2 linked regions of the Homo sapiens genome follow. The gene in region 2 interacts genetically with the main gene of each other region. Each region holds a gene or a part of one and is shown on either strand. Other genes may lie near its edges.

Region 1 (7,883 bases), on a different chromosome or scaffold from region 2:
CAGGCTGGTCTCGAACTCCCAGCCTCAGGCGATCTGCCTGCCTTGACCTCCCAAAGTGCTGGGATTACAGGCGTGAGCCACCACGCCTGGCCCAGTGTCAGGTCTTTCTCTCACCCAGACTGGAGTGGAGTGGCACCATCTCAGCTCACTGCAGCCTTGACCACTCGGGCTCAAGCCATCCTCTTGTCTCCGTGTACCTGGGACCACAGGTGCACGCCACCATGCCTGGCTAATTAAAAACAATGCTTCTATAGGGAAAGGGTCTTGCATTGTTGCCCAGGCTAATCTTAAACCGCTGACTTCAAGTGATCCTCCCGCCTCAGCCTCCCAAAGTGCTGGGATTACAGGTGTGAGCCACTGCGCCCCGCCCACATTTTCTATTTTCAGGAAAAGTGGTGCCCTGTGTGCGTGGCCTGGCGGCATGTCTCTGGGGTGTTGTAGCTCCTTGTTCTCTGTCGGGCTTGGGATGGGGGCACAGGCAGCATCTGGCCTCTCCTGTGGGCTCAGAACTGATGGAAAAAGAAGGCTCAGGGATGAGAGCTGGGGCTCGCCTTACAGCCTGGAAGGCGGTGGAGGGTGGTGGGGGCTCTGCCTGCGATGGAAAGTGCAGTCCTCCCTCGCCTGAACGGGATGGTCCAAGGCCTCCCTCCCCCTCGAGGGGCCTCCCTCCCCTCCAGCGGCCTCCCCTGCCTGCCCACTCCCACCTCTCACACCTATGGACTGAGCGGAGGGGGCAGAGAAGGGGCAGACTGGAAGAGGCTGAACCCAAGGCTTCCCTCAGCCTCCAGAACCCTGGATCAGAACCGTCCGTCCTCTTCCCCCGCTCCCCTTACACTGATGCAGGGTCGGTGGCTGCACAGTGTCCATCTCTGCAGCTGGCTGTCTCCATCACACATCGTACAGCGGCAAACACTCCCCAGCTAATGTCCTTGGGGTGTCTTCCAGGGTTTCCTTTGGGTCATTTTTTATAAGTGGTCTTCCTCAGTTAAATGGATAAACACACTTAAGGCATCAAAACTCACTTTATTATTTTCTTAATTTTTATTTCTTGGAGACACGGTCTTACTCTGTTGCCCAGGCTGACGTGTAGTGGCTCAATCACAGCTCACTAAAGCCTCCAACCGCTGGGTTCAAGTGATCCACCTGCCTCGCGCTCCCGAGTAGCTGAGACCATAGGTGCGCAACACCACGCCCAGCTAGTTTTTAAAAATTGTTTAGTAGAGACAAGGTCTCACTATGTTGCCCAGACTGGTCTTGAACTCCTAAGCTTAAGTGATCCTCTGGCCTTGGCCTCCCGAACTGCTAGGACTACGGGTGTGAGCCACCGTGCCTGGCCTTTTCTTTATTTTTATTTTTTTGAGACAGAGTCTCGCTCTGTCACCCAGGCTGGAGTGCAATGGGGCGATCTCAGCTCACTGCAACCTCTGCCTCCCAGGTTCAAGCAATTATCCTGCCTCAGCCTCCTGAGTAGCTGGGACTACAGGTGTGCGCCACCACGCCTGGCTAATTTTTCTATTTTTAGTAGAGATGGGGTTTCACCATGTTGGTCAGGCTGGTCTCGAACTCCTTACTTCGTGATCCACCTGCATCGGCCTCCCAAAGTGCTGGGATTACAGGCGTGAGCCACCGCTCCGGGCCAGCCACTTTATTTTCAAGGTATTCCTTTTAGGCTGGGCATGGTGGCTTGGGCCCGTAATCCCAGCACTTCGGGAGGCCAACGCAGGTGGATCCCTTGAGCTCAGGAGTTAGAGACCGGCCTGGGCAACATGATGAAACCCTGTCTCTAGCAAAAATACAAACAATTAGTGGGGTGTGGTGGCACACGCCTGTAATCCCAGTTACTCGGGAGGCTGAGGTGGGAAGATCACTTGAGCATGGTAGGTGGAGGCTGCAGTGAGCCAAAATCACGCCACTGGGCTCCAGCCTGGGCAACAGAATGAAACTCCGTCTCCAAAAACCAACAAACAAAAAAACATACCTTTTATGTCTACATTGAAGAAAATAATTCCATGTCTGCTCTTAAGTGTCTCATTTGGTGCCTAGAAACAAAACCTGATTAAATGTCATCTACGGTCAATCAAATAAAAGCCTTCGTGGCAAACTCACGCTCGAAGCAAAGGGCGTTTGCCTCTTCAAGGAGCTCTGTGAGGAAGGGAGGTGGCTGAACCTCACCCTGCACACCACAGGCCCCCGCGCGCCTCCCTGCCCCTCCTCAGGGCCTTCCTCTACCTCTCTTCTGCCTGGCCTGCCTCTGGTCTCCTCCTACCCCCACTAGGCTCAGAGAATCTCCCCTCCACACCCACACCACAACCTACTTTAGAAGGGCTGCTGCATTTCCTCCAGGCTTTCTGACCCCCTTCCTGTCCCTGCAGGGCAGGGGCCCCGAGGAGCTGGAGGCCCAAGGGCCTTGTTCTGGTCCCAGGGCCTGGGGACACCTGCCACCGAGGGCCAAGAGGAGGATGGACGTGGACACAGCCCCGAGAGCCTGGCCCGGACACAGCAGCAGCTCTGCAGAACCAAGGCAAGCATTGGGGACCTTGTTGGGAGTCGGGGGGCAGCCCAGGGGCCAGTGTCTGAGGTCCTGCTGTCTGTCTGGCCACCCAGGACTCCCTCATCCCTGGAAACTGTGCTTTACCATGGAGGCCACCCACTCTGTCTCCTCTAAGGTTCTGAGGCTGAATGGGCTAGGGGGCTTGCGGGGAGGCCCCAGTGTCCAGCACTGTGGGACCTGGCAGGGTGCCTGCGGCCAGGACCCAGCGGGGCCAGGTGTTGGTCTAACAGTGCAGCTTCGTTCATATCCCCAGCCCCTGCCCACCTGCTCTGAGCACAGTGATGGCCCTGGGAGGTGGGCCTGGGCCCTTGGCAGGCTGGGGACAGCCTAGTGGCCCTTGTCCCATGCTACCCCCTTTCCCACACAGCGATGCTGGCATCAGACACCATGCTGAGTGCTGGCAGGGGCGAGGGCTGGGAGGCTTCCACACATGGTTCCCCATGCAGTCCCACCTGTGGGCATCTGGTTGGGGGTAGGCTGGAAGCTCGGGGAGCCTGGAGCTGGGACTTCTGTGCTTGCCTGGGAGCTCTGAAGGGTGAGGCTGGGCATCCAGGGTGACACAGCCCAGGGAAAGACATGGGGGTGACGTGAGAGGTGCCTGGAGGGAGCTGGCAGGTATGGACATGATGGACACGGAAGCACGGAGGCGGGCAAGTGGCCAGACGCATCTAGGGGAAGGTGTGGGGGAGGCGCCCTTAGGAAGGGCCCTGAAGGGCTGTGGGCAGCAGGGAGCCCTGGGAGGCCTAAAGCAGAGGGCAGATAGATGAGGGCTGTTGTCTCAGGTGTGGGGCGGACGAGGTGGGGAGCCCTCACCCAACAGGAGGCGAGCTGGTCCTGTGTGGCCTGAACTGCAGCTGTCTCCTCTGTGAAACGGGGGTATAGCTGACCCCAGGGGGCTGCCTGGAGCATCCCGGGAGGTGCCAGGCCCAATAGTGCTCTGGGAAGGACAGGGCCCTGGGCTGTTGTGGGAGGCGGCAGATCCTGGTACTCACATCCTCCTCCTTGGGGAGGGCCTGATGGTTGGCTGAGGCCTGGGTGGAGAGCAGAGGGTTGGTTCTGACAGGGTTGGGCTGGCCAGAGCTGGTGCTGGGGCTGCTGCTGGGGGCCCGTGCCTCTCTGCCGTGGGGTGCCTGGGGCTGTGACCTCATGCTCTGTGGCCTGCAGGGCAAGTGACACGGATCTGGGCAGCCAGGGTGGCAGGATCGGACTGGACCCCTTGGCAGGGCCGCTGTGGAGACAGCCCAGGGGAAGGGGTGCAGGGGTCTGGACACTCCAATGGCCTTGCTCTCGGGCTGGCCTGGGCAGCGGAGGGAAGGAGAACCCTTCTCTGATACTAGATGGTGCCTGGGAGAAATCAAGGCAGAGGGTCCTAGCCGGTGGGCTCTTTGGAGGTTGTGGCTCCTGTCCGGGTGAGAGCCACCATATATTGGGGCCTAACGTGTTCCCTGGCGCTGTGAGTCCAGGCTGCCTTGGGACTCAGGAGGGTGGAGCCCACCCCACCTTCCAAGGGCCCTGGCCATCCCTGCCTGCCGACCACCCCACTCCTGGGAGCCTGCTTCCCTCACGGCGGCGGGCAGGCCGTGGCGGTCCCCACGAGGGCCTCCTCTCCAGGGCCGGCTGGGCAGGGAGCCCCGAGGCCTGCAGCCCCCTGACTGCCCTCCGATGTACTGGCGGCAGAAAAGGGCTGCGCCCCACGTGCGCCCTTCGGGGCGCGCAGTCCGCCCAGTGCTCCCCACGGCCGCGGCCATTCCAAGGACCTGCAACGCCGCCTCTCCCACTCCGCTCTCTGGGAAGCCAAAGCCTCCCGGGCTCCGCTTCCGCACCGCCCCTCGGGAAGACGGCGCGACCGCGCCCCCGGCACGCCCCGCCCCCGGCAGGCACTGACCACGCCCTCTCCCGGCCATGCAGAGACCCCGGCCCATGTTTCTCAACTCGTCTTCTCGCTTCCGGCCCCGCCCCGCGCCGGAGGCCCCGCCCCACGCTCTTTACCTCTTCTGCTCGAGGCGGGCCCCGCCTTACTCCCTGGTCCCCGCCCCACGCCCGAGGCCCCGCCCCGAGCTCTTCACCTCGTCTTCTCGCTTCCGGCCCCGCCCACGCCCCGGCCCCGCCCCGCGCTCCTCACCTGTCCCCTCGCTGTCGGCCCCGCCCCACGCTCCTCACTTTATCCTCGCGCTTTCAGCCCCGCCCCGCGCCTGAAGCCCCGCCCCACACCCTTTACCTCGTCCCCGCGCTGCCGGCCCCGCCCCGTGTTGAGGCCCCGCCCCGCGCTCTCACCTCGTCCCCGCGCCCCGGCCCCGCCCCCGCACTTCCGGACGCCGCCGGCGGGGGCGCTCGGGCCTGGGCTTCGGCGCTCTGGCTCGGGCTCTGGCTCGGGAGGCGATCGTGGCCGCTGCCGCCGCCAGAGCCGGCCGGAGTCGGCCCGGAGCCGCGTCCACGCGGAGCGGGCGGGTGGGAGCTGGCGGCTGGGCCCCTGCGGCGCCCCCGCGGCCTGCCCCGCGTCCGCCTCCGGGCCGCCGAGCCGCAGCCGCCGAGATGGGGGCCGCCCCGGGCCGCGCCCCCGCCGGGTCCCGCCCGCCGCGCTGCCGCTGAGCGCATGGGCCCGGACCGCGCCGCGCCGCTCCGGGAGCCGGGCCCGGGGTCCCGCCACCACCGCGCGCGGGTGAGTAGGGCCGGGCTCCGGGGCGGGCTAGGCCGCGGTAGGCCGGGCGGGCGGGACCCGGAAGCGGCGGGGGGCGCGGGTGGCTGACGCGCGTGGGACCGAGGGGGTGGGCGCGCGGGGAGCTGGGGCCGGGGTGTCCCTGGGCAGCGGGACTGGCGGCGCGGTGGCCGCTTGGAGGTCCGAGGCCTCGGGCGCGTCTCGGGGCACGGAGCAGCTGCAGGGGCCGCGCATCGCGTGCGGGGGCCCGGGAGAGCCGGGCCTGGAGCCCTCCCCGCCGCCCAGAAGTCGGCGGGAGTCCGGCTGTCCCGGAGGAGGACACTCCCGCCCGCCCTCGCCGAGGCCGCGTGCCGGGTCCGGGTCGGGGTTCGGCCTGAGTAGCCGCGTGCTCCGGCGTCCGTACCCTCCAGGTTGATGCCTTGCTGCCCAAACACTGGTCTTTCTCTTGGGTGTGGTTCTTAGATTCTACCCCCGCCCCGCACTTTGGAATTTAGCCCCCGTGAAACCAGAGCTGCACTGCCCGAGCAGTGAAACTTTCAGCTTGGCATTGAAGAAAGTAGAGAAAAACATGTCAGTTCTCTGGGGATTTTTCTCAGCCCATCTATAAGATATATATATATATATTTTTTGTAGAGATGGGGTGTCACTATATTGCCCAGCAGGTGTTGAATTCTTGGCCTCAAGCGATCCACCTGCCTCAGCCTTCCAAGGTGTTGGGACTACAGGGGTGACCACCGTCCTCTAAGATAATTTTTTTTTTTTGAGACGGAGTCTCGCACTGTAGCCCAGGCTGGAGTGCAGTGGCGCTATCTTGGCTCACTGCAACCTCCGCCTCCCGGGTTCAAGCAGTTTTCCTGCCTCAGCCGCCTGAGTAGCTGGGATAACAGGCATGCGCCACCACATCCGGCTAATTTTTGTATTTTTAGTAGAGACAGGGTTTCACCATGTTGACCAGGCTGGCCTGGAACTCCTGACCTCAGGTGATCTGCCCACTTTGGCCTACCAAAGTGTTGGGATTACAGGCGTGAGCCACCGCGCCTGGCCCCTTCTAAGATAATTTATAAAGGGTTCTTATGTGCATGTCAGCCCCTTGTTTTTGCTCACACTTCTGTTCTCTGCTTCTTCAGGAAGAATCTCGAGCTTACTTGGATCCACAGGCCCTATTTTGGAGAAAACACAGTCTAAACCGGCTACCCGAGATACTCAGCAATAGCTCGGTTTCAGTTTTTTTTTTTTTTTGAGACAGAGTTTTGCTCTTGTTGCCCAGGCTGGAGTCCAATGGCGTGATCTCCGCTCACCGCATCCTCCGCCTCCCAGGTTCAAGCGATTCTCCTGCCTCAGCCTTCCCAAGTAGCTGGGATTATAGGCATGCGCCACCAAGCCTGACTAATTTTGTATTTTTAGTAGAGATGGGGTTTCTGTATGTGGGTCAGGATGGTCTTGAACTCCCGACCTCAGGTGATCCGCCCACCTCGGCCTCCCAAAGTGCTGGGATTACAGGCGTGAGCCACCTCACCTGGCTTTGGTTTCAGTTTTAAGATCTCCATTCAGGGACAAGGATGGGAAAGCATGAAAAACAGACTGTTTTTGTTTGATTTTCAGCTGGTGTTGACTTGTCTTGGGTTTCTAGTTTCAGAAAAGCTAAGCAGACTTTTTCGGATTACATTGGTCATTGAGAATTTCAGTGATGGGGGAATAAATTACATGTGAAATAGTAGCCCTGAACCTTCAAGAGTTAAATCAATGGACAGCTGGGAAGATGTCAGAGTCGTGTTGTGTTACTTGCCTCCTCCATGTAAATCAAAATGTCAAAAGTTACGTTTGGGTAAAATAAATACCTACACACGTAGGTAGCATTGAGTTTGCTGCCATGATGCCTGGAGCATATGCCTAAGCGGTGACGAAAGGGAATTTTAAATACAGTATCATACTTGTAGGCATCCCGCCCGTTTTATGGACTCACTTTATTGATGGTAGCTACAGGCTGTGGGCCAGATTCAGTGCTTGCAGGCATTTGATACTGAACTGAGTAAACGTGACTGCTTTATGTGTGGTGTGTACTTGTGTGTACACTAAATGCTTGGTGTGCTTCCCTGTGGGAACCCAGAGATTTCAGGAATTGGGACATGTTTCAACAACATCAGTAGCTTGTAGAGGGGTTCATGTGCTTCCAGGGACACCAAAAAGTCTTCTGTCAGTTGACAGCCAAAAATACACATGATTGTAAGAAAATTTTCTTCTGGGCTCTGAAAATTTGGTTCACACATGAATTAAAACATTAGTTTTGGGGCCAGGCAAAGTGGCCTGTAATCCCAACACTTTGGGAGGCCGAGGCGGGTGGATTGCTTTGAGCTCAGGAGTTTGAGACCAGCCTGGCCAACGTGGTGAAACCCAAAATACAGTAATTAGCCGGGCGTTGATGACTCGTGCCTGTAGTCCCCGCCACTTGAGAGGCTGAGGCTGGAGAATTGCTTGAGCCTGGGAAGCTGAGGCTGCAGTGAGCTGAGATCGCCCCACTGCAGTCCAGCCTAGGCGACAGAGCGAGACCCTGTCTCAAAATAACAAAAAACAAAACAACAAAACCCATTAGTTTTGGAAGAATTTGCTGCTGTTTTCTGTGGTACAGTAGTTCAGCCCCTGTAGAGAGCCAGTGTTTGGCGTCTGTGACAAATGTCT
Region 2 (7,426 bases):
GTTTTAAAATTCATCTTGAATTCCCTACGAACACAGAAGTAATCCCTGGGACATGATTGTCCTAATTTGTGTTCTACTCTTTCCTTTTTCTCTTTCTTTTGGTAGTAGTTGTGGCTCTAGTCCTGTCACTGCCACTAAGATCTCTATGATTTTGGGCAAGCCACTTTGTCTTACTGGGGCACAAATGATATGTGTGAAAGTACTCTAAATTGCAGGCTGGGTACAGTGGTTCTTGCCTGTCATCCTAGCGTTTTGGGAGGATGAGGCGTCAGGATCACTTGAGTCCAGGAGTTCAAGACCAGCCTGGGCAACAAGGCAAGACACTATTTCTACAAAAAGTTAAAAAAAAAAAAAAAATTAGCCAGGCATGGTGGTGCCTGCCTATAGTCCTAGCTACTGGGGAAGCTTGAGGCAGGGGGATTGCTTGAGCCCAGGAGGTCTAGACTATAGTGAGCTATGGTGGTGCCATTGTACTCCAGCCTGGGTGACAGAGTGAGACTTTGACTCATAAGTAAATTGCAAAGCATTAAAAAATACAATTATTATTATTGAACTAGGTGATCTCTGTATTTCCCTCAAGGTCTAAAATTTTTATTTTTATTCTACACTTTTGATATTTTTAGTGAATTCATCTGATCTAGAAGCCAGAAATTGCTCTTTGAAGACTCCTTTCTTTCTTTCTTTTTTTTTTTTTTTTTGAGACAGAGTCTCACTCTGTAGCCCAGGGTGGAGTGCAATGGCACGATCTCAGCTCACTGCAACTTCCGCCTCTCGGGTTCCAGCGATTCTCCTGCCTCAGCCTCCTGAGTAGCTGGGACTACAGGCGCCTGCCACCACGCCCGGCTAATTTTTGTACTTTTTAGTATAGACGGGGTTTCACCATATTGGCCAGCTGGTCTCGAACTCCTGACCTTGTGATCCGCCTGCCTTGGCCTCCCAAAGTGCTGGGATTACAGGCGTGAGCCACCGTGCCTGGCCTAAAAGACTCCTTTCATTACACCAAAGCTGCTGCTGATTCAATAAGTACAGAATGATTTGTGACTTTAACAGCAACACCAAAAACAGGTTATTCTTCAATCTTTTAGGCTAAAATTACTGCAAATGATACATGACTTTAAGAAGAAGGCTGAGTCATAGCCAACACCTGAGGACTTCATTTTCTATGTAAAAAAAAAAAAAAACAATTTTGCCATTCTTAAATCCAATAAATTTAAATCTTAAGAAACTAAAATCACATTTGAAAAGGCTAGACCCACTCACATCTCATTTTTGTGCATTTTGCTGGGCACTGTCAGTGTTGGAATGGTGACTATAGCAGGCAGGAAACAAAGGAGGACTCATACCTTATATACAAAATTATAGAATCTCAGGGTTAGAAGGGTTTCCAGAAGTCATTTAGACCAGTAGAATTTAATGGGCTTACACAAGTTCTAAAAAAAAGGCGAGGAGGATTAGACATACAAGTACCTATCATTCATTCATTCATTCATTCATTTATTGAGACAAGGTCTCACTCTGTTGCTCAGGCTGGAATGCTGTGGTTTGATCATAGCTCACAGCAGCCTGGAACTCCTGGAGTCAAATGATCCTCCTGCCTTGGCCTCCCAAAGTGTTGGGATTACATGCATGAGCCACCGTACGCAGCTTTCAACTTTTTTTTTGAGACAAAGTCTCACTCTCTTGCCCAGGCCGGAGTGCAGTGGCACAATCTCGGCTCACTGCAATCTCTACCTCCCCAGTTCAAGCGATTCTCATGCCTCAGCCTCCCAAGTAGCTGGGATTACAGGCATGCGCCACCACGCCCGGCTAATTTTTGTGTTTTTAGTAGAGACAGGGTTTCACCATGTTGGCCAGGATGGTCTCGAACTCCTGACCTCAGGTGATTGCCCTTCCTTGGCCTCCCAAAGTGCTAGGATTACAGGTGTGAGCCACTGCACCCGGGCTCAACTTTTAACCGAGCAAGAATATTTTAAAAACCAAAACCATCTACCATCGGCACCTTTTTATAAAAGAGCATTTTAATGACACATATGTGAAAAGACTAAATCTCAGAATGAAATATAATGTGAAATCAGATAAATAAATGAAAGATGTATTGCTTACTTTTCTCACATCCTCATGGCAAACTTTGTTAGCCACTTGCACCTGTCCATACACAGATCTTTGGGAATCACTAATTTAGACCACTTCATGCCCACCCTTACCCTGCCCCCGGCTTCATTGAGCATTTTTATCACAATACCAAAATATCCGTCTAAATGTATACCTCATCCCCTTATGGAGAACTCCTCAAGCTGAGGAATCCATTAAACTTTGGATGTGTGTGAGAAAATTAGCAGAAAAGGAGTGATCTCTGGAAAACTCAAGATGCTTAAACTTGGCTTTTTTTTTTTTAAGACCAGAATTGATTAATTAATTAATTTTTTAGATGGAGTGGAGTCTCGCTCTGTCTCCAGGCTGGAGTGCAGTGGCACGATCTCGGCTCACTGTAACCTCTGCCTCCCAGGTTCAAGCGATTCTCCTGCCTCAGCCTCCCTAGTAGCTGGAGCTACAAGGCACATGCTACCATGCCCAGCTAAGTTTTGTATTTTTAGTAGAGACAGGGTTTCACCACGTTGGCCAGAATGGTCTCGAACTCCCGACCTCAGGTGATCCAGCCGCCTCGGCCTCCCAAAGTGCTGGGATTACAGGTGTGAGCCCACCATGCCCGGCTGCATTTTATATCAGAATTTAACAGCAGATTTTAACTTAGTCAAAACATGCTTTAGAGTCACCAAAGGAGAATGATGTCTAACAGTGCTGATTTGGGAGTTGGGCACCCTGAGTGTTGGTTGGGCTTTAAAAACTTCATGCTAAACTTCAGGGGAAGTCTCCTCCCCTCTCTCTTCAGTTGTCTTCCGAGATGAACCCTATTACTAATTACTTGACCACCTTTCAAAGTTGCAGTTAAAATTCTTCACATTTTTCTCCCATTTCTATTTAATTAATTATTTTTTTTTTGAGACAGGGTCTCTCTGTTGCCCAGGCTGGAGTACAGTGGCGTGATCTAGTCTCACCGCAACCTCCGCCTCCCGGGTTCAAGCGATTCTCAGACTCCCGAATAGCTGGGGTTACAAGTGTGCGCCATCACACCCGGCTAATTTTTGTATTTTTAGTAGATACGGGGTTTCATCATGTTGGCCAGGCTGGTCTCGAACAACTGACCTCAAGTGATCTGCCCGCCCCGGCCTCCCGAAGTGCTGGGATTACAGGCGTGAGCCACTGCGCCCGCCCCCCATTTCTATTTTAATTAAATTTTATTTAGGATAGGCTTAGCTTAAATTTTTACGACTGAGGTCTGACTTAAGATGATAGCATCAACCATGGAGTTTTCTTTCGTGAACATTATTATTACTAAGCCCAATTTTCCCAGGTCAAATTTTGTAAAACAAAACGTGGTCAAAATTTGATTCTCTGATCGATTTTTTGTAAAAAAGAAAAAAATTACCGTGTAGTTTTAAATGTTGTCAATTAAATTTTGTAATAGTTACCTCTACTCTGTTCAGGTTAATACTGAGGTTTTCAACAAGACCAACATACGATTCTTTTTTTTTTTTTTTTTTTTTTTTTTGGTGGGGTTGAGGGGACATAACAGTTTTTTCACTCTTGTTAAATTAATTTTCTGTTGATTCCATCTATCCTTAATCTTCATTATGAGCAACATACCAGGTTTTCTTCTGAAGATCATATGTGGTAGTGAGGCAATAATGCAAAGACATAGGATGGCAGGGGGATTCCGGCTTCTTTCTTTCTTCCCCTCCTGTGGAAAGAGGGTCTATAACACTCCGTAGTAGATAGGACAATTCTAATTATGAAGGGTAATTAGCTAGGCTCTGCTACAACCGAGAGCCCTGAGAGATTCCTCGACGCTGGCTGCTTTTCTCTTCCTCTCCACCAGAGGCGACAGCCTCTTTCCAAACAGAAACTGGGTTGGAATAGGCCGGTCCGGGGGAACGGCCAGAAGAAAGATCAAAGGTTAAAAACCGCCTCAAAGAGCACAGGTCAATACCCAACTCCTAAGGAGGCCTTAAGCTTTCATCTGCCACGAAACATGAAGGTGACTCCTCCCAATATCAAGGCCGGGGGGCCACTCAGCCTTCCAGAGACCCGGCGGGTCCGAGGCGAGTAACAGGTAACACCTGCTGAGCCGCCGCCGACCGGAAGTGGAAGAGAGCCCGGGACGGGGGTGAGGACAGGCCGCGGCACGCCTGCGCAGTCAGCAGGAGTTGCAGCGCTCATGCGCAGCTGGGCGGTGACAGGGTGACGCTCGGAGCGTGGGCCGCGACTCTCACGGATCCGGTTCCGCCCTCTCGCTGCCGATCCTTCGGAGCGAGCGCCCGAGATCCCTTTCCCAGAGTGCTCTGCGCCGTGAAGAAGCGGCTCCCGGGGACTGGGGGCATTTTGTGTTGGCTGGAGCTGGAGTAACAAGATGGCGTCGTCCGCGGAGTGACAGGGGTCCCTCTGGGCCGGAGCCGGCGGCAGTGGTGGCAGCGGTATCGCCGCCCTAGCTCACCGCGCCCCTTTTCCAGCCCGCGACGTCGCCGCGCAAGCGAGGCAGCGGCGGCCGCCGAGAAACAAGTGGCCCAGCCTGGTAACCGCCGAGAAGCCCTTCACAAACTGCGGCCTGGCAAAAAGAAACCTGACTGAGCGGCGGTGATCAGGTTCCCCTCTGCTGATTCTGGGCCCCGAACCCCGGTAAAGGCCTCCGTGTTCCGTTTCCTGCCGCCCTCCTCCGTAGCCTTGCCTAGTGTAGGAGCCCCGAGGCCTCCGTCCTCTTCCCAGAGGTGTCGGGGCTTGGCCCCAGCCTCCATCTTCGTCTCTCAGGATGGCGAGTAGCAGCGGCTCCAAGGCTGAATTCATTGTCGGAGGGAAATATAAACTGGTACGGAAGATCGGGTCTGGCTCCTTCGGGGACATCTATTTGGCGATCAACATCACCAACGGCGAGGTAATCATCTGGGGTGGGGTTCACGATAACGCTGCGCTTTTACTCATTCCCCCCACCACCACCGTGCACCCCCAAAGTGCTCGGGCCTCTCCTCATCGCACGCACTCGCCAGGGAGTCCAGGGAGCTAGTTTTCCTGGCTTACGAACCTCGTCCGCTGTCTCCCTAAAAGGGTCAAGAACCCGATAGAAAGGTTGGGGGAACTAGTTTCCCACCTTGTTAAACACGTCCCATAAATGTCCCTTAGTCGAGCTTTTTTTTTTTTTAACCGTCTTTTAAGGTGGAAACGGCAAAATCCTCTTTCAGTGATTCCCATGTTTTTTTTTTTTTAATTCTTAATTCTACTGGGCCTCTTGTTCCAATTAGAACAGTTTCCGATCGCCTAGTTCCTTAAAAACCTCTCACTACGTTCAGAGGTTGCCTCTTTTTTCTGGATGAATCATTTTCCTGCACTTTAGAGGACGTACGGATTTCGTCACTACCCCCTGAAGAGGCCTTTGAGGCTGGTTGCCTCGTTTTATAATTACCGAGAGCTTTCTCTTTCCAGCTTTTCACTTCTTCTTGTAGTCGCGACTTGGAGTTTTGCTAATGTCTCCCTCCTTTCCTAAGTGACATTGAATCCGTAGGGATGTTGATGCCATCATCCCCTCTTTCCCCTGCAGGAAGTGGCAGTGAAGCTAGAATCTCAGAAGGCCAGGCATCCCCAGTTGCTGTACGAGAGCAAGCTCTATAAGATTCTTCAAGGTGGGGTTGGCATCCCCCACATACGGTAAGAACCCGGTGCATATAGGCGATCCGCTGAGGGAAGCACGGAATGGGGAAGTGGGTAGAGGCAGGTAATGAGACCAGCTGAATCCGGGTCTTGGTGTTTTAGTTACCTGGGTTCCCTATAGCTGGTGGTTTCCTGTAAGTCAGTCATCTCAATTACTGAGTAAATTTCAGTTTGCCAACTTATTTCATTGTATTACACTGCTCCATTTCGCTTCCGTCATTCTCACTCTTCCCGAGGCTTTCATTTGCAGTTATGCGTGCAGGTCATCTTTGATCCCTACGCGGAAGGGTTGGCTGCTGCCTTTTTTACGGCGGCACTTCTGATGTACTTAGGTTTGTCCAGTGAAGTGGATTTGAAGGTGCCGAAGCGACCCGGCAGTGTCAGTTCGAGTTGCTATTGGAGCTGGCTTGGGAAATGGCTGCTCTTTTGTTGTGTTTTTGTTCCAACATGTCTTCCTCCTCCGCTTAGAAAATGGCGGAACGACGTGACTCAACCCCATATTCCTGCCCTTTTCTCAGCTTGAGTTCACAAATTATGCTTCCTTGATTCCTCCTTTAGCAGCCCCGAGTGGATTAAACCTTTGAAAAGCCAAGAATAAAGCTGCAGGAGGCGGTGTGGAGGTTCGAGGAAGGAGATGGCATAGTGACAGTGTTTGTGATCTCTGCAGCAGATGTGACACGAAATTGTTGAATTACACTATGTAAAATCCTTCGTAGTTCTTTTAAAAGTGTTAATTACTCTTTCTTTTCGTGAATGGTCATATTTGGCACGTTTCAGTCGGGACTAAATTTGTATAGGTAGTGGCAAAGGCAGTTTGAGCAGCACCAACTATGTTAAAATTTACTCATATCAGTTGTATTTAAAAAAATCTTAATCACTTAGCCACACTTTGATAAGTAATTTTAACCTGTTGAGTTTGTCAGTAAATCTTCACATCAGAGAAATTGGGGCCTTTGTTGGTGTGGAATATTGGTGAGTGCAAATAGCAGTAACGAGGATAAAAGATGACGAGATAGACATTGTTCTGTCAAATGGTTAACTTTACTTTGGAGGGTTTTAATGTTTTAACTTTTGGGATTAAAGATCCTCTTCATGGAATGGAGACTAAAATATAGTTTAAAGCCCAGCTATTTTCCAGCAATAATCTAAAATAACATTTGCAAAATTATTCAGAATAGGTAAGAATGGTACTTACTGTTTACTGGAGCCTCTTCTTTAAGACGGAGTTTTCGCTCTTGTGGTCCAGGCTGGAGTGCAATGAATGGCACGATCTTGGCTCACTGCAACCTCTGCCTCCCGGGTTCAAGTGATTCTCGTGCCTCAGCCTCCTGAGTAGCTGGGATTACAGGCGCCCGCCACCACGCCTAGCTAATTTTTGTATTTTAGTTTCACCACGTTGGCCAGGCTGGGCTCGAACTCCTGACCTCAGGTGATCTGCCTGCCTCGGCCTCCCAAAGTGCTGGGATTACAGGCATGAGCCACTGTGCCCGGCTTTTTTTTCTTTTGAAACGGAGCCTTACTCTGTTGCCCAGGCTAGAGTGCAGTGGCGCAACCTTGGCTAACTGCAGCCTCCGCCTCCCAGGTTCAAGTGATCCTCCTGCCTCAGCCTCCCAAGTAGCTGGAATTGCAGAGCTGCACTACTACGCCTGGCTAATTTTTGTATTTTTAG

Evidence for each region. Genes that interact genetically often act in the same process or in processes that back each other up.
Region 1: of CSNK1A1 (region 2) and AXIN1, changing one suppresses a phenotype caused by changing the other (phenotypic suppression), as found in Homo sapiens cells (one study listed by BioGRID).

The regions. Positions count from the first base shown.
Region 1 is NC_000016.10:349,696-357,578, reverse strand, and holds the start of AXIN1 (axin-1), read left to right. Parts: upstream 1-4,855; 5' UTR 4,856-5,144; coding exon of another isoform or gene 5,145-5,210; intron 5,211-7,883. UniProt on the Homo sapiens protein: Component of the beta-catenin destruction complex required for regulating CTNNB1 levels through phosphorylation and ubiquitination, and modulating Wnt-signaling.
Region 2 is NC_000005.10:149,548,403-149,555,828, reverse strand, and holds the start of CSNK1A1 (casein kinase I isoform alpha), read left to right. Parts: upstream 1-4,389; 5' UTR 4,390-4,864; coding exon 4,865-4,987; intron 4,988-5,463; exon of another isoform or gene 5,464-5,647; coding exon 5,648-5,754; intron 5,755-7,426. Other genes in the region: ARHGEF37 (rho guanine nucleotide exchange factor 37), read right to left, coding at 3,706-3,727.